Linked DNA regions of Homo sapiens. The protein of the gene in region 2 purifies or fractionates together with the protein of the main gene of each other region. This does not show direct contact. Each region holds a gene or a part of one and is shown on either strand. Other genes may lie near its edges. The genes, in order: PLCG2, BTK, ANKRD54 and MAP3K4.

Evidence for each region.
Region 1: the proteins of BTK (region 2) and PLCG2 purify together in Homo sapiens (affinity purification with western blotting; 2 studies listed by BioGRID). This does not show direct contact.
Region 3: the proteins of BTK (region 2) and ANKRD54 purify together in Homo sapiens (affinity purification with mass spectrometry; 5 studies listed by BioGRID and IntAct, with this or other methods). This does not show direct contact.
Region 4: the proteins of BTK (region 2) and MAP3K4 purify together in Homo sapiens (co-immunoprecipitation; 3 studies listed by BioGRID and IntAct, with this or other methods). This does not show direct contact.

The regions. Positions count from the first base shown.
Region 1 is NC_000016.10:81,936,268-81,943,301, forward strand, and holds part of PLCG2 (1-phosphatidylinositol 4,5-bisphosphate phosphodiesterase gamma-2), read left to right. Parts: coding exon 1-111; intron 112-1,490; coding exon 1,491-1,636; intron 1,637-2,533; coding exon 2,534-2,648; intron 2,649-3,624; coding exon 3,625-3,792; intron 3,793-7,034. UniProt on the Homo sapiens protein: The production of the second messenger molecules diacylglycerol (DAG) and inositol 1,4,5-trisphosphate (IP3) is mediated by activated phosphatidylinositol-specific phospholipase C enzymes. It is a crucial enzyme in transmembrane signaling.
Region 2 is NC_000023.11:101,355,164-101,362,197, forward strand, and holds part of BTK (tyrosine-protein kinase BTK), read right to left. Parts: coding exon 7,010-7,034; intron 5,593-7,009; coding exon 5,405-5,592; intron 4,988-5,404; coding exon 4,925-4,987; intron 4,185-4,924; coding exon 4,130-4,184; intron 3,534-4,129; coding exon 3,454-3,533; intron 3,275-3,453; coding exon 3,147-3,274; intron 2,421-3,146; coding exon 2,346-2,420; intron 1,793-2,345; coding exon 1,621-1,792; intron 1,106-1,620; coding exon 889-1,105; intron 1-888. UniProt on the Homo sapiens protein: Non-receptor tyrosine kinase indispensable for B lymphocyte development, differentiation and signaling. Binding of antigen to the B-cell antigen receptor (BCR) triggers signaling that ultimately leads to B-cell activation.
Region 3 is NC_000022.11:37,834,325-37,841,358, forward strand, and holds part of ANKRD54 (ankyrin repeat domain-containing protein 54), read right to left. Parts: intron 5,911-7,034; coding exon 5,863-5,910; intron 4,275-5,862; coding exon 4,176-4,274; intron 1-4,175. UniProt on the Homo sapiens protein: Plays an important role in regulating intracellular signaling events associated with erythroid terminal differentiation.
Region 4 is NC_000006.12:161,113,769-161,117,914, reverse strand, and holds the end of MAP3K4 (mitogen-activated protein kinase kinase kinase 4), read right to left. Parts: intron 2,793-4,146; coding exon 2,613-2,792; intron 1,066-2,612; coding exon 1,045-1,065; 3' UTR 535-1,044; downstream 1-534. UniProt on the Homo sapiens protein: Component of a protein kinase signal transduction cascade. Activates the CSBP2, P38 and JNK MAPK pathways, but not the ERK pathway. Specifically phosphorylates and activates MAP2K4 and MAP2K6.

The DNA.
Region 1 (7,034 bases), on a different chromosome or scaffold from region 2:
GCCTGACCCGCGTCTACCCAAAGGGACAAAGAGTTGACTCTTCAAACTACGACCCCTTCCGCCTCTGGCTGTGCGGTTCTCAGATGGTGGCACTCAATTTCCAGACGGCAGGTAAAGGCCGACTGAAGGTAGTCCCGTCCCTGCAAGGTGGCGGTTGCAGTCACTCCAGGCCGAGTCACCTTGGGTCAGCGATACCATGTGGTGTCCAAGAATGAGTGATTTGTCCGAGGGACTGCACGGTTCAGCAGAGTAATGGTTAGTATGAGGTCCAGCAGCTGAATGGAGGGATGAGAGGACCGAAGGCTGCTTGGCTTACGCAGGCTTCGTGATTGTAAGTAAGTGACAGAGGCTGAGTTAGTCTGGCTTAGAAAAAGAAAATGCATTAGTTCATGTAATTAAAGCATCTTTGGAGTTCTCTTCTCCAGGCCTGTTGCTGTGTGAGGGCTTTCTGCTCAGACTTTCTTCCAGAGACATTTACATGCTGGCATAACTAACATACACAAACTTCTGGACACAAAGTGATCGCATAAATCACGGGGCTTTGTGCTTTTGTTGTTGTTATTTAAGACCTCTTTCGAGGGATCTATTCATCAGTAGCCTCCTTTACATTCTTTTTATAGCCACATCGGATTCCACAGAATGGAACAATCATTTATTTAATAAGTCCCCGTGGAGGCACATGTAGGTATTCCCCATTATTTGCTGTCATAGACAGCACTGCCTTCTGTACCCTGACGTGAGCGCCATTCCACAGATGTAGGAATATGTCTATGGGACAGAATTCTCAGAAAGGCAGGGTGGGTCAAACAGCGCTTGCATTTTGATCAACTTTGCCCTGAGGAAAACCACTGAAGACGTGCCTGAGCTAAGCCACACTGCCAAACTGCCCTCCATAGAGATCGTGGGCGGGGATGCAAATAGGTGGAGGTTGGAGTACGCTCTTTTGGTATGACTTCGCTGAGTTTTGTTGAACTTTTTGCCGTTTGCACAACTGAGAGGTGAAAACTGATACATCGTCGTCCATTAGAGCTTCTTCTTGTAAGGGACATTAACCAGTTTTTCCCTCATTTAGGGAGCAGTGGCATTTTCTTTTCTGGGAACTATTTGTGCTTCTTACCTGATGTATCTACTGCAGTAGGTATTTATAGCATAGATGTATCAGAACTAAGAGGTTAAAAATTTATATTCACATATTTGTCATTTGAATTAAAATTGCCTATGCAATTTATTGCTACATAGACACTTTTAGCAAGTTTGAATCTTTTCTTTTATGATTCGGGATTTGGTGACATACTTGGAAAGGTGTTCCCCAGTCTGGGAGTTTGCTGTCTAGAAACCCTATATTTTCTTTGAGTGAGATACCTATTTGAACAGCTGCCTCACATTAATTTGGGGAAAAGGTGAAATTCATTCCCCACCTAGAAACTCCTGGCCTAGGGGGCCAGCGTGCTCATGCCTGACTTACAGCAGGCGTTCACTTTCCTTCCCAGATAAGTACATGCAGATGAATCACGCATTGTTTTCTCTCAATGGGCGCACGGGCTACGTTCTGCAGCCTGAGAGCATGAGGACAGAGAAATATGACCCGATGCCACCCGAGTCCCAGAGGAAGATCCTGATGACGCTGACAGTCAAGGTAAAGCCAGCCCTCCCTTCCTGCCAGGGGAGCCAGCCGCCCTCCCTGGGGGCTGGGCCGATGCTGTCTTGAGAGCAGGGAACCCATGTCTAGGGAGGCTGGTTGTCTTGTTTAAACGATCCCCATTCAGGCAGTGTTTGAGGATCTTTCTTTCTTACAGTACACTCCGGGGTCGTTCTGGGAGAAGAGGGAAGAGAGGGGAAACCTCCTCAAACCCACTTCCCCTTGTCCTCTGTGGGGGTGAGGTATGACCCTATCTTTCTGGGGTCCTGGTGAGGTCAGCCTCTGGCCGGAAAGAGAAAGAAAACATGGGAAACAGCCATTTGGTCTTAATGGAGAAGTTTTTTCCCTTACTTTGTCCAATTCCAGGGCTTTTTAAAATTCATCTGACTTTCAGAGAAAGTGTTGTTGCTTTGTAAGAATTTTTGAAAAGTAGAGAAATGAATTGCATTTCTCCTAAGGTTAAGGGCGGGCGGGTGGTAGGGGGAAGAAGCATACGTAAACACAGGCCTTTAAATAAACAGCAGTTATAAAAAGAATGCCACACTGTTCCTCAGCCTTTCCTAGGGGTGTGGAAATCCAGTGATTAAGCTCTGCCTTGATCAGAGGCACCTGCTTGGGCATGGATGTGTGCATTCATGAGCTCAGGTGAGTTTTACCTGTTGAGTCAGGTGGCATATGGGGCCGAGACCCAGGCTGATGCTGAGGAACTGTGGGATCTACCACAGTCCACCTTCATCCACTGCAGAAGGTTGCTCCGGCTTTTCCAGTGAATCTAGGAAAATTAGGGCTGGCATTGAACTCATCCAGTGTCACTCTAGAACCCAGCTGCAATCCACGCTAGGCTGCCTGTTCAGGACCCCAGGGGGGTTCCAATGCTTCCCTTTGGTGTCCCAGGTTCTCGGTGCTCGCCATCTCCCCAAACTTGGACGAAGTATTGCCTGTCCCTTTGTAGAAGTGGAGATCTGTGGAGCCGAGTATGACAACAACAAGTTCAAGACGACGGTTGTGAGTAAGTCAGTCACCTTGGCCCCTCTGCTTTTAAACGTCCGGCCAGTGAATCCTTTGTGGGAGTGCTCTTCGTGGGGGATTTTGCAATGCTCTTTAGTTGTCCCAGGGTTTTCTTTCCTCCCTCTTGCCCACATGGTTCAGCTTGAGGAGGGGATACATACAAAGGGCCACTTTCTGAAATCCTTAGACTTTCCCCAGTGCTGTTTGCCTGCCTGTAACTCAAGTCCGGAATCGTAGGTGAGGCCCTGACACTAGGTTGGTCCTCTCTGTGCAACAGCCCAATCTGATTAATCTCCTGAGTCAAAGGCCAAGAGGCAGAGACACAGAGAGAGGGGGTGAACCTACGTGGCTGACCTGACCCAGAGGATCAGCCTAACCTGGGAGATCTTAGCCCCTAGAGGGCAGGAGGGACAAGAGGAATGCTTGCTCTTCCAGGAAAAGCCAGGAGGGAACCGTGATTGGTGGGCCTTCTAAAGCACAGGATCCTTGCCCCTGGTAAAAAGTAGCCCAATGAACAACTCAGATGCTGACCAAATAAACTGGCATTTATGGAGAGTGGCAGGATTGCTGCTTGCCTGCTCTGTGAGGCTGGGCTCTCCCCTGCCAGCTGTAGAACCCCCTGCTGGTGGATGTGGCTCCCAGGCTCTCCTCCCCTTTTGTCTTTTCCAAAATCCACCTTCCTGCTCTGCAAACAAACACCTCCCCCGTTCCCTTGTCCCTGATCCTGGGGCGGGGAGATGGGAGGTGGTCTCCTTCCTCTGCTCACCAAGGGACCAGCCTGCAACAGCAGCTTCCAGGATTGCTCAAGGTGGGGTGGGGGAGTGAAGATAATTATTCAGATTTTCTTAGATCTTGGCATAGATGCATATTTATTTACATGGTTGCTAAGGGGATTCACAGCTGAAGGATGCGGAGATTGTCTTACCAGAAGGGGGCAGCTCCAATGTGGCCTCTCATGAGCTTTGATCTCCTTCCAGATGATAATGGCCTCAGCCCTATCTGGGCTCCAACACAGGAGAAGGTGACATTTGAAATTTATGACCCAAACCTGGCATTTCTGCGCTTTGTGGTTTATGAAGAAGATATGTTCAGCGATCCCAACTTTCTTGCTCATGCCACTTACCCCATTAAAGCAGTCAAATCAGGTAAGAGGCATTTTAATTAAGATGTTCGATTTGGGCTGGCGTTGTACTTTGGTTTGGCTGCTGGCTTCAAAAAGAATGAAAAATGATTTTTCCTGGTTTGGATGGAATCACTGTAAAACCGATTGGGTGGCTTGGAGAGCAGGTGTACAGCCTGTCGTGTAGCACACAGGTGGGAGGAAGTGGGTGACAGGGGAGGCTATGCCCCTCAAAGTGGGATGTTTACAAGCAAAACTGGATTGTTAGTGGATCCTCAACCTGGCACTGCAGTTTGATTTCATTTTGAAATATTACATGCGGTTTGCTTCTCCCTAGCTAGGGCTAAGTCTGGTTTGATCTCCCCCTCCTGCTCTCTGGCTGGCAGTGTGAGAGGGTGGCAAGGGAGAGACCTTTGGCATCTTGGGGGGGGAGTAACAATCTCGAGGGTCCAACTCCCCAAACCCTTCAGAATTCACCTTCTTCTTCTATAAAATTGGGTGGGTTAATTTACTTCTTTGAGTTGTTACAGTTTTCTTCCCTGCTGAAGAAAACACAAGATCCCTTCATGGTATAAGAAGGGTCATTTTGTATTTTTCTGCAACCAAGCCAAGCTGGGTCATACGACCAGCTCTTAAGAACCCTGCTGAATCCCAGATGACTGAGCCCTTCCTACACAGCTGAGATAGACACTTCCAGGTGAGGGGATTTGGGACCCTGCTGCTTCTAGAGCCAGTCATTTACAAAAACAAAAAAAACTGGCTCTCCTTAGCTTCTATATAGTTTCTCTAGTTTACTTTCCCACTGGATCTTTCCCACTGGATTTTAGGTATAATATTTGACAAATAGGCCCTTGCTGGATGTTGAATTTTCCTTCTTCCTCTTCCTTTAGTATTTCTGATGCATGGTGCATGAGATATGAGATCATAGATTCTTCTGGATTCCTCAAGAGGTCACTGTTCCCTTGTTTTCTGAGGATCATTTTTCAAGAGAAAGATGACTGTCATTTTAGTTACTTACATAAAAAAATACAGTCTTTTGATATTGTTTGGAAACGTGGGGCTCAATGAAGAGCTGAATTGGATCTTTTTTGTTTTCAGACATTCCCTCAACTTCCACCTTTTTTTGTATAATATCATAAACCTGACCATTTCTGCTACTGGGCAGGAGCCCAGTTTCTGAGCAGCAGGCATGCTAGAAAATCCAGGTGCTGGCCGGGCACGGTGGCTCACTCCTGTAATCATAATCCCAGCTACTTGGAAGGCTGAGGTTGCACCACTGCACTCCAGCCTGGGTGACAGAGCAAGACTCAGAAGAAAGTGCAGGTTCCTGGACCCACCACAGGGTGATGAGTCAGCCCAGGGTGGGGCCAAGGAATCTGCATCTTTAGGCAGCTCCCCAGATGGTGCTTGGATGGCACTTTGACAGAACCAAACTATGTCAAGGCTGCCTATCTTACCATTGAGGAAATGAATTCCTTAGCAAGTTACTAGATGAAACAAGACTTTGGGAAAATGTTTAAAGTTTCTGATTTTTTTTTTTTTTTGTACTCTAGAAATGTTCATTTTCATGAACATTGCTACTCTAGCAATAATAATGAGTATTCATTTGTAAGAGGCCTGATATTTGGCAACCCTTCTGGGTTAACTCACCCACACTGTAAACTCCCCCTTTTTTTTTTTTGAGATGGAGTCTTGCTCTGTCGCTCAGGCTGGAGTGCAGTGGGTGATCTCGGCTCACTGTAACCTCTGCCTCAGCCTCCTCAGTAGCTGGGACTACAGGTGTACACTACCACATCTGGCTAATTTTTGTATTTTTAGTAGAGACGGGGTTTTGCCATGTTGGTCTGAAAAAAAGTGATGGGATTAAAGGAGTGAACCACTGTGCCTGGCCTATAAACTACTTTAAACCCGGCACTGATCAGGGCTGTGATTCCTTAATTTGCTTCTTTTAGATTAGTCTAATAAGGCTTAGGAATGACACCAATTCTTCTGGTGCAGGAAGTGTAGCTTTTGGTACACCTTTACGTTCCTAGCCTTGACGCTGTAACAGATTTCTTTTTATGGTAACTGCCTGCCAGTTCCTCTACTGAACTCATCCAGCAGAGAGGGGCAGCTGTGCTGAAACCCCTTGGTTACCCCGACGTCCTCTTGAAGGATGAGGGCCTTGAGCCTCATAACCCCTCCCAGTGCCTTGCAGAGATGTCAGAGTTGATGATAAAACCTCGTTACCTTAATGGGCATCAAAGTGTGTCAATTCATCTGCAGAATGCAATGACTTAGCTTGGAGATTTGGAAAAAACAAAGGTCAAAACCTCAAGGGAGATTAAAAATGTGACCTTCTCCTCCCCCGACTGTGAGATACTCTCAGCAGGGACCTTTCCTCACTTCTTTCTAGCTCCTAGCAGTGCCTGGCACATCCATATTCATGGGAGGAATGAAATAGAATGAACAGGAGGCATTGAGGGTCTTCCATACTGAAAAAATAAACTTCACCCATTGTCATTAGAGATGCACTGAAGCTTTTAAACCAGTTGGAGCGCAGGAAGGAAAGCAGCAGCCTTTATTGTGTTAGGTACCTTAAACTCTTTCTCTTTTAATCCTCACAGTAATCCTGTGAAAGGGGTTTTATCTTTGGTTTTAAAATTCTGAGCACTTTGAGGCCGAGAGACTATGACTTAACTTGCTCAAGGTCACACACCTGTAGGACCAGAGCTGAGATTCAAACCCAGGAATGTCTAATTAATTTCGAACCCCGTGTTCCTCCTCTGCAGGCTGCCCTCTCACTGGGTGCTCAAAGCCAGATGCATTGATCTTACTTTAAAAGGTGTCTGTATTTCCCTTTCCCCAGTGAAATGACTAGAAACAAGAAGAAGAAAAACAATTATTTTTTTTTTTTTTATACAAGGAGGGCTGCCCAGTGCATAAAAATGGGACTTGGGCAGCGAGAGAAGGTACATAGAGCTGGAGACAGCTGGTCATGAGGGCAGAGCTCATGTCTCCGATTTAAGAGGCACACGCCTAGTGTCAGATAGTACTGTCCAGCCTGGAACCATGCTATTGGAGTGTAGGGGCTACCTGATAGCCTCCCGGAATGCCATGGAGCAAACAGTCATTCCAGTTCATTCTAACAGTCAATCAGCAGCTAGACTGTATTAGTCCGTTCTCACACTGCTATAAAGACATACCTGAGACTGGGTAATTTATAAAGAAAAGAGGTTTGATTGGCTCACAGTTCTGCAGGCTGTACAGGCTTTTGTTTCTGGGGAG
Region 2 (7,034 bases):
CTACTTGGGAGGCTGAGGCAGGAGAATTGCTTGAATCTGGGAGGCGGAGTTTGCAGTGAGCCGAGATGGTGCCATTGCACTCTAGCCTGGGCAACAGAGCGAGACTCCATCTCAAAACAAAACAAAACAAAACAAAACAAACAAAAAACAAAGAAGGGAGAATGAGAAGTAAGTTTTTTTGCTTTCTGCTTTTCTGCCAGTGAGACTAGGACAATTTGAGCCTTGGCCTGACTGAAAGAAACAGGGGCGCAAACTCTGATGCTTACAGGGGCCAGGCAAGTTAAGTAAGAGTGAAGTGAAGTGGATCGAGATTGCAGGAAATGGAGAGTACATGCCTAGAGGAAAGGAGGCGGTTCGTGAGAATGTGGACCTGGTATTTCCAGACGGTGTAGATTTTCAAGAGAAGCTGGAAATTCCAGGGTTTTTTTTTTTTTAAGCGAAATGTTTCTTTTTAAGGGTTTGCTAATTATTATATAACATAAAAAAAACCCACACATGTGGGCCAAATGCATCCACAGGCCCCAGTATGTGACTCTGAAGGAACCAAATGATGGCCCCATGCCAGGAGCAGTCCCATTGGGAAGCACAGTCCCTTCTGTTCCAAATCCAGAATGGCCACTGAAAGACCCCACCATTTTCTTGTGGGTGGTAGGGGGTTGGGAGTGAGTGACTGCTCTGATTCCCACCACGGCAGACTTCATGGAGCTGAGGCTGGAGATATTTGATGGGCTCAGCACTGGGGCAGAGGCACGCCTAACTTATAGTACTTTCTAGATAAAATTGAAATGATGGCACCAGCAGCCCCCCTCAACCATGTATGATATATCTTCCACTGCTACTTCCACCCCATCAGCCCTTTGTCCTAGGCCAATCCTTCTAAGGTCCCACCAGGTCTCGGTGAAGGAACTGCTTTGACTCCAGGTATTCCATGGCTTCACAGACATCCTTGCACATCTCTAGCAGCTGCTGAGTCTGGAAGCGGTGGCGCATCTCCCTCAGGTAGTTCAGGAGGCAGCCATTGGCCATGTACTCAGTGATGATGAAGATGGGGCGCTGCTTGGTGCAGACGCCATACAACTGCACCAGCTTCTCATGGGAAAGATTCCTACAGGAAAGGCAAGGAACTAGTCTTCTCCTTTTGGCTCTGCATAATAGCAATAAAGGGGCTGGGGAGGAAGGGGCTGACCTAGGAGTAGAGCATCAGATAAGGGGTCACACCAGCAAGTTTATTTTCCTCTTTCCCACCCTAAATCTCAAAAGTGCTTAAAATGTGGAAGCAAGCAGGGATTTGGAGCCCATCAATTGAAAAAGAAACAAGTCCAGGAATGAAAGAACGCTAAGGCTAAATTAGAATATTTCTCTTGAAAGTTTAATTTTCTACATCTACCCCCAAATGCTACTGAGATGGTACACACCCATGATCACCACTATTCTCAACCAATATCTAAGGCACAGAAACTATTATCTTAGCACTTAGGACTACCGCCAGTTAAAGGTAAACTTCAGTCCCTCGTCCCAAACCTCTCTTACTGTAAGTCATCTTTAAGCCTCAGTGGGTTGTTGTGTGAATTCCTAGACTCCAGCAAATAGATTGAGAGTTGAGTTTGGGCTATAACTCACATCATGACTTTGGCTTCTTCAATGAATTCATCTTCAGACATGGAGCCTTCTTTGATCATCTTGATGGCCACGTCGTACTGGCCTCTCCATTTCCCATACTTCACTACCCCAAATTGTCCAGTCCCCAGCTCCTTCAAGAAGGTCAGGTCCTTTGGATCAATTTCCCATGATCCTAACAATAAAGTCTTGGTGTGATTCTTTGGGGTCATGAATGTATAATTCTTACAATAGACAAAAATCCCTACTGGGGTAGAAATAGGAAAACTAGTAAAAGGGAAATTTTTAGAAGTACTAATCTGTCTTTGCTTAAGTCAATCTCAGAAACGGGATTCATTGGTTAGAGGAATCTGGGAATTTTAGGTTCAAGGTGGCCATAAGGCAAGAAGATAGACTAAGCAACCTCCCCAAATCCCTTTATGATTATGTTAGTGATGGTAGTTAATGAACTCAGGGATAGTACTGAAAATTTTCCCACAATTAAAAATAAAAGACAAAAAGACCCAAGACAACGACAAAGCCCTTTATGAATCTATGTTTTTGCAGTCCCAGTCGTAGCCACTAGAGGAAGAAAATCAGTGAATAACTTTTGCTTGGATCTGTCTTGAGCGTCCTTGAGGCAGCTGCTGCAGAACAGTGTACCTCAAGGACACTCCCTAAGGCAAGGCCAGCAAAGGTAGTTTTTGCAACTGGCCAGTCCACCCTACCCCAGAGAAATAAGGAGTTACCGTATCCCAGGCCTGCAGTGGAAGGTGCATTCTTGTTTTGTTGAGACACTGGATATTTGAGCCTGGATATGAGTCCTGAAACAGAGAGAGAGGTCATGCTGTTGGTGTGGTGTAGGAGGTGGGATGCCTCACACATCCTCACTTAAAGCCTCACACTTCCGGTGTGTATCTTTCTAGTACATTTTGAATCCCAGAAGACCTCCATGAACCCACATATTTCCAGAGGTTTCTCCTCTCACAAAATACTTTTCAGGGACAAAAAAGAGAAAATACTAATTGAAATACACTGCCTAACTGAATATATTCCCACCTCCCAGCCCAGGCTTAGCTCACATCCTACCTTCTTGATGAAGCTGTTCCCCCATATCCATGCCCTCACTAATGTCTCAGTTTTTAGAAATTTTACAGTGCTTATAAACTTTCTTCTGATGTTGTCTAACCTGTATGTTCTTTGAGGACAAGGACCTCGACTCAGAATGTTCCCGTGTTCTCCTCTAGAACTGAGGAAATCGCTGAGTACACAGTAGGAACTCAATGAATACTTGCTGATGAATCAGTCACCAGCCTCTTTTGTGTCTTCTCTTAACACTGAACATCAATCACCAAATAAAGAGTCAGTCCCTGTTGGGTGTAGGTCTGCCTCTGACCACCTCTTTACCAGCTTCTACCCAGTATCACAGGGATTTCCTTTCACAGTGAATTCACACTGTCCTGTGAGGCAGATTCTTCCTCTTATCACCTTGTCCTGCATTGCTTATCCTGGTGTCTGTAACTCCCTTCTCAGTTGCCCCTGGTACTCACCTGCAGAGTTGTGCTGATGGTAGTTAATGAGCTCAGGGATGGTGCTGAAAAGGTGCTTCTCAGCCAGGTAATACTGGCTCTGAGGTGTGGAACACACAACATAATGACGTATCACCCCTTGAGGGTCCCTGAAGAAGTGGATGCTTAGTCAGTAACTTGGGCACAAAGGTCAACAGAACCCAGGAAGTGAAGTGAGATGAGTTTTGAGTTTCAGAGACAGAGGAAGTGGGACGGGCACAGCATCAAGGAGCTATTAGGAGGGTACCCCTGTTCTTTGTCCTCAGGGCCTTGGAATAGTAGCACTCACCCTGTGGATTTAGCAAACACAGACACTGTATATTTGCCAGCTTTGCTGGAGTCTCTGACAATGAAACCTCCTTCTTTCCCCTGAAACAACGAAAAAGAAGCTGTCTGTAGGAGGAAGTGGTGCTCACACCTGCATCCCACCTGCCCAAACTTGAGAGAGAAAATAGAACAACCCCTGATTTTACTGCCAAGTTCCACGCTTGAGCTACAGCCTCATTGCTTTTAATATTAAAAGGTGCAGGCCGGGCATGGTGGCTCATGCCTGTAATCCCAGCATTTTGGGAGGCCGAGGTGGGCGGATCACCTGAGGTCAGGAGTTCGAGACCAGCCTGGCCAACATGGTGAAACCCCGTCTCTGCTAAAAATACAAAAATTAGTCGGGCGTGGTGGCATGTGCCTGTAATCCCAGCTACTTGGGAGGCTGAGGTAGGAGAATTACTTGAACCCAGAAGGCGGAGGTTGCAGTGAGCCCAGATCACGCCACTGCACTCCAGCCTGGGTGACAGACCGAGAGTCCGTCTCAGAAAAACAAAAACAAAAAAAATGGTGTAATTGGGATCCCAGACGATGGCAGCTTTGACACTGCCTTGCCCAAAGGTAGGGGGCAGAACAGGCCCTCAGTTCAAGATCCTCACTTATGCAAGGAGAATGCTGTGTGCTAGTGGTTCCACACTTACCTCTTGCTTTAGCAGTTGCTCAGCCTGACTCCGAGTCATGTGTTTGGAATACCACCTGTGAAGGGAGAGTGCTGCTTGAGTGGCTCCTGGTCATAAGCAGATTGGAGGTTACAGCACCCTCCAGGGCTTGTCCATGTCAGTGATTCAGTCAACTCACTCAAACCCTATTTACTGAGCATCTGTCATGTGCATAGCACACTGTATCCCTTTCCCAAACCCAGGTTGGCATTGAAGATTCATGGAAATGGAGAGTAGCAGGCAAAGGCAAGCAGCAGGGAGTTGCAGGGAAGAGATCAGGGACTAGGGCACTTGAGAACAATCCACTTCCATGATTAGGGAGGAAAGGACAACAGTAGCAGTTTGACATTTTAATTCTTTCATCAGGTCGTCAACTCCTTTTTCTTTGAGTGTGATTCTTCTGGATTTGAGGGCATGGTGACCTCTCCAGCTCTCATAAATGGAGGGTGTTTGGGGGGTAAAGGTAAGACAGATACACTAATTTGAGGTGGTGGCATCATTTGATTCAGATGGTACTAATTTTAATATATATCTTGAAATAAAAAATATGTTGAAAGTAGAAAAAAGTGTATATATATATATACACACTTGTGTATGTATACATAATATACCTATATATACACCAGTGTATGTATACATATGTATACATATATACACTTGTGTGTGTTATATATATATATAAATATATATAAAATATATATAAATAAATAAATATATATATATATAGAGAGAGAGAGTTCCTCCTGGAAGATTGTGGACTGACATAAACATACTTACTCATACATTTCTATGGAGTCTTCTGCTTCAGTGACATAGTTACTAGGAATGTAGCCTTCCTGCCTGTGAAGGAAACAATGTGGCAGTTCATCCAGCACCTCCCCAGCCTCCAGGAGACAGATTCATATGCCCACGTCCCTGAGCTCAGAACAAATCTCAAATGGAGGTATATGTATCATGCACCTCCCTCAAAGACAATCATGTCTCTGATGCATGGTTAGGCAGTGAGCCAGTGAGGTGCAGAGCTTATGCACATGTTGCATTGGTTATATGTGCCCAACAACAGAGGCTCAGAGATGTGGCAGAGGCCATGTATAGGGAGCTGCACGCTGGGAAGTACTTGGAGGGAGAGCATGTTCAGTCTGGTGTGGGAAGAACAGTCTCTGATGAGGATGCTGATCACGGGAATTATGCCGCAGCACTTTTTGCGTGTAGGGAGTGGGCAGGCACCAGGCTCAGGAAGGGCTGGTGTGGACTCACCCATTTTTATCTCGTGCTCTCCACCATGGTAAGTTGCTTTCCTCCAAGATAAAATATTCATCACCCTTCCGCAGCTGTAGATCATTTGCATTCATTGGCATGTAATCATAAAGGGCCACAACCTTTTTCAGCTCACTTGTGGAGACTGGTGCTGCTGCTGGCTCAGGCGGTAGTGGCTTTTTCAAGATCTATGTAGTTAGGAGAAAAGGTAGGAGGGTTTGTCAAGATACCAAGCACTCTTCTCTTCTCTCCCAACTCTCTGGCTTACTCAAGACACCCAAATCAGGCATACTAAAATATTACTCAGCAGTCATTCAACAACCATTTTTAAGCACCAGTGCAGGAGTTCTCAGCCTTGCACACATATAAAGACCATGTATGGAACTTTTAAATTCCAATGTACTTTCGGAGGCCAAGGCGGGCGGATCAGTTGAGGCCAGGAGTTCGAGACCAGCCTGGCCAACGTGACGAAACCCCATCTCTACTAAAAATGCAAAAATCAGCTGGGCATGGTAGTGTGTGCATATAGCCCCAGCTACTCAGGAGGCTGAGGCAGGAGAATAACTTGACCCCAGGAGGCGGAGGTTGTAGTGAGCCAAGACCACGCCACTGCACTCCAGCCTGGGTGACAGAGTGAGACTGTCTCAAAAAAAAACCCACAAAAAACAAAAAACCAATTCCAATACCTAGTCAGTTTCCTCACAGACCAATTACATCAAAATCAAACTCTCAGGAATGGGACCCAAACATTACTATTTTTAAAGCTCACTAGACAAAAACCATTTATAGCTAAGGTCAGGAAACCGGCTTGGCACTAAACTTGTACGTGAATCTACTAAGTGGCTCAGAACCTTGGTTTCCTTCTTTGTAAAATGAGTATAATAATACCTGCTCTACTTACTTACAATATGTGAGAAAGGGCTTTCTAGCCCTCAAGAAGGAACCAAAAAAAAAAAAAAAACTTCTGAAGTGTTAGTGATAGGTGGTGTTAGTGCTAAGTGTTGAGTATGTTGGTATTAAGTGTTAAATTCTTCTAACTTTACTGTATGTTTGAAAATACTTTCCAGCTGGGCACGGTGGCTCACGCCTGTAATCCCAGCACTTTAGGAGGCCGAGGCGGGTTCGAGACCAGCCTGAACAACATGGTGACACCCCCATCTCTACTAAAAATACAAAAATTAGCTGGGCGTGGTGGTGCATGCCTGTAATCCCAGCTACTCAGGAGGCTGAGACAGGAGAATCACTTGAATCTGGGAGGCGGAGGTTGCAGTGAGCCGAGATCATGCCATTACACTCGAACCTGGGCGACAGAGCGAGACTCCGTCTCAAAACAAAAACAAAAGCAAAAACAAAACAACAACAAAAACTTTACATTAAAAAAATCAGGTTTTGTTCTAAACAGGTGATTGGATTACATGGTTGCTGAGAGCCTTCTATCTTTCCATCGAGGAGGAAATCCTAATTAGAAGAACAAATCCCCCATCTTAGCAAGAATACCAATTAACACTGCCAAGTCCCAGGGTAATTCTAAGACTCTAGTGTGTTCTTAGGGCTTGACTATAAGTTTCCATTTAAGCAGTGGCAGCACCCAGTTTCCCTGTATACCTGGTCCTCCTCAGGCGTTGGGGGA
Region 3 (7,034 bases), on a different chromosome or scaffold from region 2:
AAACAGGCTTCCAGAAGAACATGAACATCTTGGGCAGGCAAAGATTTCTTAAATAGGTCACAAAAATACTAACCATAGGAAAGAAAAGGCCAGGCATGGGAGCTCAGGCCTGTTAATCCCAGCACTTTGGGATGCCGAGGCAGGTGGATCATTTGAGCTCAGGAGTTCAAGACCAGCCTGGGCAACATGGAGAAACCCTTTCTCTATACTAAAAACACAAAAATTAGCTGGGCATAGTGATGGCAGACTTGTAGTCCCAGCTACTTGAGAGGCTGAGGTGGCAGGGCGGCTTGAGCCCAGAAGGTCGAGGTTGCAGTCAGCCGAGATGGTGCCAGTGCACTCCAGCCTAGGCAACAGAGACAGACCCTGTCTCAAAAAAAAAAAAAAAAAAAAAAAAAAAAAAAGAGAAAGGAAAGAAATATTGATAAATTGGATTCATTAAAATTAAGAACATGGCTGGGCACGGTGGCTCATGCCTGTAATCCCAGCACTTTGGGAGGCCAAGGCAGCCAGATCATCTGAGGTCAGGAGTTCAAGACCAGGCTGTTCAACATGTTGAAACTGTCTGTACTAAAAACACAAAAATTAGCTGGGTGTGGTGGCATACCCCTGTAGTCTCAGCTACTTGGGAGGCTGAGGCAGGAGAATTGCTGGAACCTAGGAGGTGGAGGTTCCAGGGAGCCAAGATCATGCCACTGAACTCCAGCCTGGGTGACAGAGCGAGACTCTGTCTCCAAAAAATAAAAAATAAAATAGGCCAGGGCACAGGAGCTCACGCCTGTAATCCCAGCACTTTGGGAGGCCAAGGCGGGTGGATCATCGGAGGTCAGGAGTTCGAGACCAGCCTGACCAACATGGTGAAATCCCATCTCTACTAAAAATAAAAAATTAGGTGGGTGTGGTGACACGCATCTGTAATCCCAGCTACTCAGGAGGCTGAGGTGGGAGAATAGCTTGAACCTGGGGAGCAGAGCTTGCAGTGAGCCAAGATCACACCACTGCACTCCAGCCTAGGCAACAGAGTGAGACTCTGTCTCAAATAAATAAATAAATAAATAAAAATAAAATTAGGAACTTGTGTTCATCAAAGTATACCACTCAGAAAATGAAACAGCAAGCTCAGAAAATCAAGTCATTTATATTTGATAAATGATTTCTAACCAGAATATACAAAGAATTCTTACAAATCAATAAGAAAAAGGCCAGGCGCAGTGGCTCATGCTTGTAATCCCAATACTTTGGGAGGCCAAGGTGACAGGATCGCCTGAGCCCAAGAGTTAGAGAACAGCTGGGTAACATAGCAGGACCACGTCTCTACAAGATGTTTTAAAATTAGCTGGGCTTGGTGGTGTGCACCTGTCGTCCCAGCTACTTGGGAGGCTGAGGCAGGAGGATTGCTTGAGCCTAGGAGATTGAGGCTGCAGTGGGCAGTGATCAGGCCACTGCACGTAAGCCTGGATGACAGAGTGAGACTTTGTCTCAAAAAAAGAAAAAGACAGAAAACTAGTTTTTTTTGTTTGTTTGTTTGTTTTTGAGACAGAGTCTTGCTTTCTCTCCCAGTCTGGAGTGCAGTCACGCGATCTCGGCTCACTGTAAGCTCCGCCTCCCGGCTTCACACCATTCTCCTGCCTCAGCGAGTAGCTGGAACTACAGGCACCCGCCACCACACCCGGCTAAGTTTTTGTATATTTAGTAGAGATGGGGTTTCACCGTGTTAGCCAGGATGGTCTCGATCTCCTGACCTCATGATCCACCCGCCTCGGCCTCCCAAAGTGCTGGGATTACAGGCGTGAGATACCGCGCCCAGGCAAAACTTGTTTTTAAAAAAATGGACAAAAGAGGCCAGGTGCGGTGGCTCACGCCTGTAATCCCAGCGCTATGGGAGGCCGAGGCGGGTGGATCACCTGAGGTCAGGAGTTCGAGACCAGCCTGACCAACATGGAGAAACCCGGTCTCCACTAAAAATACAAAATTAGCCGGGCGTAGTGGCGCATGCCTGTAATCCCAGCTACTTGGGAGGATGAGGCAGGAGAATCACTTTAACCCGGGAGGCAGAGGTTGTGGTTAGCCGAGATCACGCCATTGCACTCCAGCCTGGGCAACAAAGAGTGAAACTCTGTCTCAAAAAAAAAAAAAAAAAAAAAAAAAGGACAAAAGATTTGAACATATAGTTCATAAAAGAGGATGTAAAAATGGTCAATAATTGGACACAGGGAGGGGAACATCACATACCAGGGCCTGTCGGGGGGTGGGGGCCAAGGGGAGGGAGAGCATTAGGACAAATACCTAATGCATGAGGGGCTTAAAACCTAGATGACGGGTTGATGGGTACAGAAAACCACCACGGCACAGGTGTACCTATGTAACGAACCTGCACGTTCTGCACATGCATCCCAGAACTTAAAGTTTAAAAAAAAAAATGGCCCGGGCATGGTGGCTCACACCTGTAATCCCAGCACTTTGGGAGGCCGAGACAGGTGGATCTCCTGAGGTCAGGAGTTTGTGACTAGCCTGGCCAACATGGTGAAACCCTGTCTCTACTAAAAATACAAAAATTAACTGGGTGTGATGATGCGTGCCTATAATCCCAGCTACCCGGGAGGCTGAAGCAGGAGAATTACTCAAACCCAGGAGGTGGAGGTTGCAATGAGCCGAGATCACGCCATTGCACTCCAGCCTGGGCGACAGGCAAGACTCCGTCTCAAAAAAAAAAAAAAAAGGCCAATAAACACATGAAGAGGTGCTCAACGTTACTGGCCATCAGAGAAATGCAAATTAAACCACTATGAGACACCAAAAGGGTTAAGATTAAAGAGAGACAACAGCAAGCACTGGCAGGGACGTAGGGAAAGGTGGAACTCTTACACTGCTGGTGGGGAGTGGGAGTGTGTGTCAGTACATCCCTTTTGGGAAAAGGTTTAGTAGTACCTACTAAAGCTAAATACATGTGTACCCTAGTGACCCAACAATGCCATTCCTAGGTTTATAGAGGATAGATGAGTGTTTACAGCCACAAATCACATATACAAGAATGTTCACAACACTTCATTCATAAAGCTAAAACCTGGAAACACCACAAATGTCCGTCAATAGTAGAATGGATAAATGGGGTATATCACAATGAAATACAAACCAGCATAAGAAAGTACTAACTACAGTCCACCCTCCCTAACTGTGAATACTGTGTCCACAGATTCAATGAACCCTGGACTCAGAACCCGAGGATATGGAGGGCCAACTTCAAAGGACTTGAGCATCCATGGAGTTTGGTATCTGAGTGGGGTCCTGGAACCAATCCCAAGAACACTGAGGGAAGACTGTACTGATATAGGCAGTATTCATGGGTGAATCTCATGGAGATAACTTTGAGTAAAAGTATGCAAGGCTGGTGCAGTGGCTCACGCCTGTAATCCCAGCACTTTGGGAGGCCAAGGCAGGTGGATCACGAGGTCAGGAGTTCAAGACCAGCCTGGCCAACATGGTGAAACCCCATCTCTACTAAAAAATACAAAAAAATTAACCGGTGTGGCCGGGTGCAGTCTCTCATGCCTGTAATCCCAGCACTTTGGGAAGCCGAGGCGGGTGGATCACGAGGTCAGGAGATCGAGACCATACTGGCTAATACAGTGAAACCCCGTCTCTACTAAAAACATATAAAAAATTAGCCAGGCATGGTGGCGGGTGCCTGTAGTCCCAGCTACTTGGGAGGCTGAGGCAGGAGAATGGCGTGAACCCGGGAGGCAGAGCTTACAGTGAACCGAGATGGCACCACTGCACTCCAGCCTGGGCGACAGAGCGAGACTCCATCTCAAAAAAAAAAAAGACTCCTATAAAAAGAGAAAAGCTGTCCTGCTGCTGTGGTTGGCACTGAGTAAATGTTACCTGAAAGTCTTGAAGGCCTGGGCCCTGCACTCTCCAGTGGTCTCTTAGTTGGAGATATCCCTTCATCCTCAGTCAATCATATTATCTCCCCCAGGTTTACCCTGCCCCAGTCTAACATTGCCAGTTCCACAGGCTAACAGAGGGAGAAGGGCAGGGCACTGCAGTGCCAAGTCTTCCTTATATCCAGAACAACTGGGCATCCCAAGGCTGTGCAGACAGCAGCGCCTCCCCCAAGGCCTGTGCAGAGACACTACTTGCCTAGCCCTACTCCCTCCTCCCTCCCCAGGACTCACCAATCTGGTCATTGCCATTGCATGAGGCAAAGTGTAGAGCTGTGCGGCCCTTGTCATCAGCTGCACAGGGATCCGCGCCATCTTCCAGCAGCTGCTGCACTGACACCACCAAGACAGAGGGAGGAAGGGGGAGAAAGCGGCGATGTTAGCTAAGCTGCAGACCCGAGCGATGGAGAGGGAGGCTCAGGGGTGCCTCTAGACAAGACATCGACAATGCATAGGAAAGCAGCCCTTCCTAGATGCTGGTCCTATGGGAACAAGCAACTTGTTCTTCTGAGGGCACAACTGAAGGCCATGGATTCTGAGTGCTCAAACTACACGTCTAGTGATAGAACATCGTAGGAGGTTCAAGGCCCTCAGGGTCAGAAATTTTAGGGTCACAGGAATCCCTAGCATAGACAGTGGTCCCCCTCCCGTGACCTCGGCTTGGATACACATCCATTCTGGCTGGAAACAGCTGCCCAAGCTATTGGCCTATGCTATGCTCCCAGCAGGCAGCAATCCCCCAGCTACTTGGGGCCTCCCAAGTAGCCCCCAGCTAATTTTTGTATTTTTAGTAGAGACGGGGTTTCACCATATTGGTCAGGCTGGTCTCGACCTCCTGACCTTAGGTGATCCGCCCACTTCAGCCTCCCAAAGTGCTGGGATTACAGGCGTGAGCCACCACACCCGGCCCGAAAAAATGTTTATGATACACAAAAAATTATGCAGGCTACAGCATGTGTATATAGCAGTTTGCAAGCCAGCCCATAAAGAAAATTCCAGTGTATAGGAAAGAAGCCTTGAAGGATATTCATCAAAATATTAACAGATTAGTTCCTTTGCGGACATGGATTTTTTCTTATATATTTCTCTAATTTCCACAACATTTTTAAAAAATTTTTTTCTTATGTTATTTATTTATTTGAGACAGAATTTCGCTCTGTCGCGCAGGCTAGAGTGCAGTGGCGTCATCTCCGCTCACTGCAAGCTCTGTCTCCCAGGTTCACACCATTCTCCTGCCGCAGCCTCCCAAGTAGCTGGCACTACAGGCGCCCACCACCACGTCCGGCTAATTTTTTGTATTTTCAGTAGAGATGGGGTTTCACAGTGTTAGCCAGGATGGTCTCGATCTCCTAACCTCGTGATCTGCCCAGCTCGGCCTCCCAAAGTGCTGGGATTACAGGCGTGAGCCACCGCGCCCAGCTAACATTTACTTTTTGTAGAGACGAGGTCTCCCTATGTTGTCCAGGCTGGTCTCAAACTCCTGAGCCCAAGTGATCCTCTTGCCTTAGCCTCCCAAAGTGCTGGGATTACAGGCATGAGCCACCTCACCTGGCCGTGGCAGCTAAGTTGAGTATTCACTCCCATTAACCACAAGTTCCAAAGTTAGTGCCTACTCTTTGCAGAAGACTGTGCTGGCTGCCAGGGATACAAAAGTATACATGGTCTCCACCATCAAGGAGTCCACAGGGTGGTAAATGCTATGACATCAGGAAGTTCAAAGTGACAGGGGAGCATGGGGAGAGTGAGTGTCTAAGCCAGACTTACCTTCAGCAAGATGACTGCACAGTCAGACAATAAATACAGTGAGCCTGCTCCAAGGGCGTGAGTTTGCAGACTGCCTTCCCACATATTGATTACCTGGCCTTTTCCTTCCCCAACCAGCCCATGGGACCCTGTAGCTGGACCTACTGTGCACACTCACCTGTTTCCACATCATTGGCATTGGCCGAGTCCCTCAGTCTCTTCAGAGCTGTAAAGAGAGTAACGGATGCCAGTTTAAAAAAACAGCCATGGCTGGGTGCGGTGGCTCATGCCTATAATCCCAGCACTCTGGGAGGCCAAGGCAGGCAGATCACAAGGTCAGGAGATCGAGACCATCCTGGCTAACATGGTGAAACCCCATCTCTACTAAAAATACAAAAAAATTAGCCGGGCGTGGTGGCAGGTGCCTGTAGTCCCAGCTACTCGGGAGGCTGAGGCGGGTGAATGGCGTGAACCTGGGAGGTGGAGCTTGCAGTGAGCAGAGATCGCGCCACTGCACTCCAGCCTGGGTGACAGAGTGAGACTCCGTCTCAAAACAAACAAACAAACAAACACACACAAAAAAAACACAGCCATTGGCTGGGCATGATGGCTCACGTCTGTAATCCCAGCACTTTGGGAGGCCGAGGCAGGTGGATCACTTGAGGCCAGGAGTTCAAAACCAGCCTGGACAACATGGTGAAACCCCATCTCTACTAAAAATACAAAAAAATTAGCCGGGTGTGGTGCACATGCCTGTAATCCCAGCTACTCTGGAGGCTGAGGTAGGAGAATCACTTGAACCCAGGACATGGAGGTTGCAGTAAGCCAAAATCGCGCCACTGCACTCCAGCCTGGGTGACAGAGTGAGACGCTGTCTCAGAAAAAAACAAAAACAACAAAAACCAACAAAAAAAACCCAGCCATCTAGCTGGGTGTGGTGGTGTGCACGTGTAACACCAGCTACTTAGGAGGCCGAGGTAGGAGAATGGGTTGAAGCCGGAAGGCGGAGGCTACAGTGAGATGAGATCACGCCACTGCATTCCAGCCTGGGCAACAAAGTGAGACTGTCTCAGGAAAAAAAAAAAAAAAAAAAGCCACAATGGCTGGGCGCAGTGGCTCATGCCTATAATCCCGGTACTTTGGGAGGCCAAGGCAGGTGGATCACTTGAGGCCAGGAGTTCAAGACCAGCCTGGCCAACATGCTGAAACCCCATCTCTACTAAAAATACAAAACTAGCCATACGTGGTGACTCACGCCTGTAATCCCAGAACGTTGGAAAGCTGAGGTGGGCAGATTGCCTGTGCTCTGGAGTTTGAAACCACCCTGGGCAACATGGTGAAACCTTGTCT
Region 4 (4,146 bases), on a different chromosome or scaffold from region 2:
AATGGCTATGTGTAAGGAGTGAGAGTCAGTGATCTTCCAAAAAGATTTCAGGAAGCTCTATGGTCAATCTTTTTAAAAAATTTAATAGCAAAAACAAAAACAAAAAAAACACCAATGATGTATAATTTGGGCTGTTTTGGAAAGCTAAATGCTGAAATGTTTACTTCTGAAAAAGATGCTTTCTCATCAGATCATTCAGCAGTAATTACACTGACCTAGCACCTAAACATCTTGGTTTAAAAATAAAGTGAACTCCCAACATGTGATAACAAGGCTTAAACTTGTATCTGTTATAAACTTGCTGGTTAATAGAAACTACTTAAAAGGAACCACCTTACGTCATTAGTGTTGCTTCATTTATTTCCTTTGCTTTTCAGCGAGGCGATCCTAAAGAGACGCCGAACCCAGTGACCATCTTTAGCACACGTGATTGTGCTCCTCCTTTTGAGGAACAGATGAGTGAAAATGACAGACTTCTGTATCATACTGCGTTGGCTCATAAGTGTTAACCATTAAAAGACAATATAACTGAGCTTTCCTAAAATAAACCATTTATTGAAAAAAGAACCTTTTTCTTAAATTTCAGTAATCAGCCTTTTGCATTACAAACCTGCAGCTTGCCAACAACAACAAAAAAGGTAAAGGTTTCACAGTCAGTGCACTCAACAAACAGGAGATTAAAAACAAGGTATGGGACGCCTGATAACACTACAACTTCTTTTGAACCTAGAAAGGTCAAAACACTACGCTGATGTCACGGTTCTCAGTCGCGCGAGACACGGAGGAGACAGAGGCGATGGTCCGTGTACAGTAGTAATGGCACTTAACATGCAGCTTCTTTAACCTCGTGGCCACCAGCCCTCCAGAGGGCCTTTTGCCACATCAGACAAACAGGAGCAGCAGGAGAAGTGACGCTTGTCACCTGTGCAGTCTTCAGTCTTGGAAGGTTAAAAAGGCTTATACTGCTTCTCAGCACAGTCTTTATGTAAATATTACATACAGTAGTGATTAAGAGAATTTTCCAAGTCCATATTCTACTAGGCTTCATTCTTCATCTGTGCAAACCTGTGAGGAAGCAGGAGAGAGCTGAGCTCTTGCAGAGCCAGGTGTGTGCTTGTGCATACGCGCAGTATGAGTCTTACGGGGAAGGCCCCATCCACTCATCCTGATGCTCCCAGCACTGTACTGGGCACAGAGGGCAAGGCTTAAGAAATGTAATGAACAATGGCAGAGGTAAGTTACTGCTCTAAAGTTAAGCCTGGGAACTGACTAATGAAAGCATTTTCTAAAACGCCTATATGCACTCTCAGGTCAATATAAATTGTTATGCACTTCATAACTAAGACATAAATTGTTATTTAATTACAAATCCCTAATGTCTCCATAGCTGATCCTGCTGCTTGCCCCTTACTCCCACTTACCAATAAGAGCATCACCCCACTCTTCTGCCCCTTCCTTTCCTTTCCCAGGGACTCTCTCCTGCAGGGCCCTTGCAAGGCTCTTTTCTCCAGGGCTCTGTTCTCATCCCCTTGTCCTCTGTGGACCCTCCCAGCAATACTTCTGTCTCCCACACCTGTGCCCTACCCAAAATCCCTCTTGAGTGCCAGCCCCAGGTATCCAAATGCCCATGTGAAATCTCCAAGCAGATGCTCCAAATGTACCCCAAGCTTCATCCACCAAAGAGGACCCACCACCTCCCGACCCACCCCTCACCCAGCTGCTTCTTTCCCTACCCTGGCAAATAGAGTCTGTGACCTGATGACACAAACCAGAAACCTGGGAGCCACTCTAGACTCCTCCCCTCACTCACCTTTCACATCCAATCAGGGGTCAGCCACGGCACTCTAACTCTTAAATGCCGCTGTTCACTCACCCGGAACGCCCTCTCCCAACCCCTTGGCTGTATCAGAACCTTCTCAATTCCTTTGCCTCTAGAGTGATCTTTCTAAAACTCTATGTCATCATTTATGTTTATAATAAAATGGAAACTCCTTCATGTTGCTCCTGGTTACTGTTCTAGCCTTATCTTCCTGCCCTTGTCCACATCCTGTGTTCACCAGGATCTACCTACACAGGGCTCTGTGACCATCCCACTCTCCCGGAAGGGTGAGCGTTTCCAAGTTTCTTTACTTTGTCTTCCATGCCCCCTCCCCCACTTCTGACCTGGCTGTGGCTCTTAAACAACTAAGGTACCTCATTCTAGAGAAAAAAGAACTGAGATTGGCTGACTTAATTAAATTCCTCTTCTGAGTAACCTTATATACCATTATCACAGCTCTCAGTATAATGATTAGTCATTACCGTCTTGACCCTCCAAGTAGACTATACACTCTCAAGAGTGGAAACTCTTTCATCCAGTCCCATCTAAAAGTCCATTTTACTGTCTCTGGTGTATCTTAAATGCACCATCAAAACAGATCAAGTGGAAGAACCTCAATGAACATTTTCCAAATGAAAAAACACATACAAAAATCCCTGGCATAATAATACATTTAGTTCCTTTCCACTTCAGATATAGCTACTTTAAAGTTTCAAAATTTCATTAACGTCTTGATGCAAAACAGAACTTAAACACTTAAACATGAAAAAGACTATCCAGTAATCTGCCAAACCTTGACAAACGAATGGTCGAGGAGCTGGCTGGCGGTCCATCTCATCTTTGGGTCACTCTCAAGGCAGTGAGAAAGGAAGTCCTTTCCTTCAGGGCTTAATCTTTCAGGGATTGGTGGCTTATGTCCCATCCCCACTTTATACATAATTTGAAAGTTGTGCTCATACTCATGCCAAGGCCTCTAAAAAAGATGTTTTTAAAAAATCAGATTTTAATATTACACAGCCACAAACAACGCAAATGTTCAGTCTGTTTTTAAGCATCTCATCATTAATATATATCAGGGGACAGCAAATTTTTACTGAAAGGGCCAAACAATATTTTAGGTTGACAGGCCATATGATCTCTATCACAACTATTCACTAATCTCATGGCAGCATGGTAGCAGCTATGGACAACACATAAATGAATATGACTGTTCCAACAAAACTTTATTTATAAAACAGGTGGCCAGCATAGTTTGCCTACTCCATTTGGGGTGCACTATTTAGTCCAACAGTATCTAGAAGCCATCATCATGCAACTAAAAAATATATAAAATGACATAAAAAAGTCTATAAAACCCAATTCTCTTATAGGGATGGTTAATATGCTACCTTATTGAAAAATAAAAATTGCATTAGTGCAAAGCTTATTTCATTATGATCCTATGAAAAATGAGATTCACAGGGGAAGGAACTAAGTGTGTATGGCATTCTAATTTCTAAACTATTGTTTCGTCATTGCCAATATGTATTCTTCAATATGAGAACCTGTTCTTTTATGTGTGGCTTTACTGGAATAACACAGATATCACAACTGCCTTTCTATTTTAATGCTAATAGAAATAATGCTAGCTAATATTTACTGAGCACTTATATGTGATCTGTTTCAGCAGCTGCAAGGCATAGCTACATTATAATTAACTGATTTCCTACTAGTAACTTAACACTAACTTTTAACTTAGAAATGAAGGTTTCTAACTTTTTTGCTATAATACTGTATGTGTACGGTAAGCTACCATGTGCAGTTCATGCGTGTCTTTTTACATTTGTATAACTGCTCATTAATATTATCATCATAAGATACATTTTCAGAAGCAGAAAACTTCTTGGTTTAAGTGCTATGCACATTTAAAATTTTGATAGAGATTGGAAATGTCTCCGGAGCAGCCCTACCACATGGAATTTCTGTCCAAAACATGTGTGTTTCTTTATATACTCTCTAAAAGATAGTATTCTCAATCTTTAAAAATGTCACTCAGCACTTCGGGAGGCTGAGGCAGGCGGATCATGAGGTCAGGAGTTCGAGACCAGCCTGGCCAACACAGTGAAACCCTGTCTCTACCAAAGTACAAAACTTAGCCAGGCATGGTGGCAGGTGCCTGTAATCCCAGCTACTTGGGAGGCTGAGGCAGAAGAATTGCTTGAACCCGGGAGGCGGAGGTTGCAGTGAGCCGAGATCATGCCACTTGCACTCCTGCCTGGCGACAGAGCGAGACTCCATCTCAAAAAAAAAAAAAAAAAAAAAAAAAGTCACTCATATGCTAAGTAAAA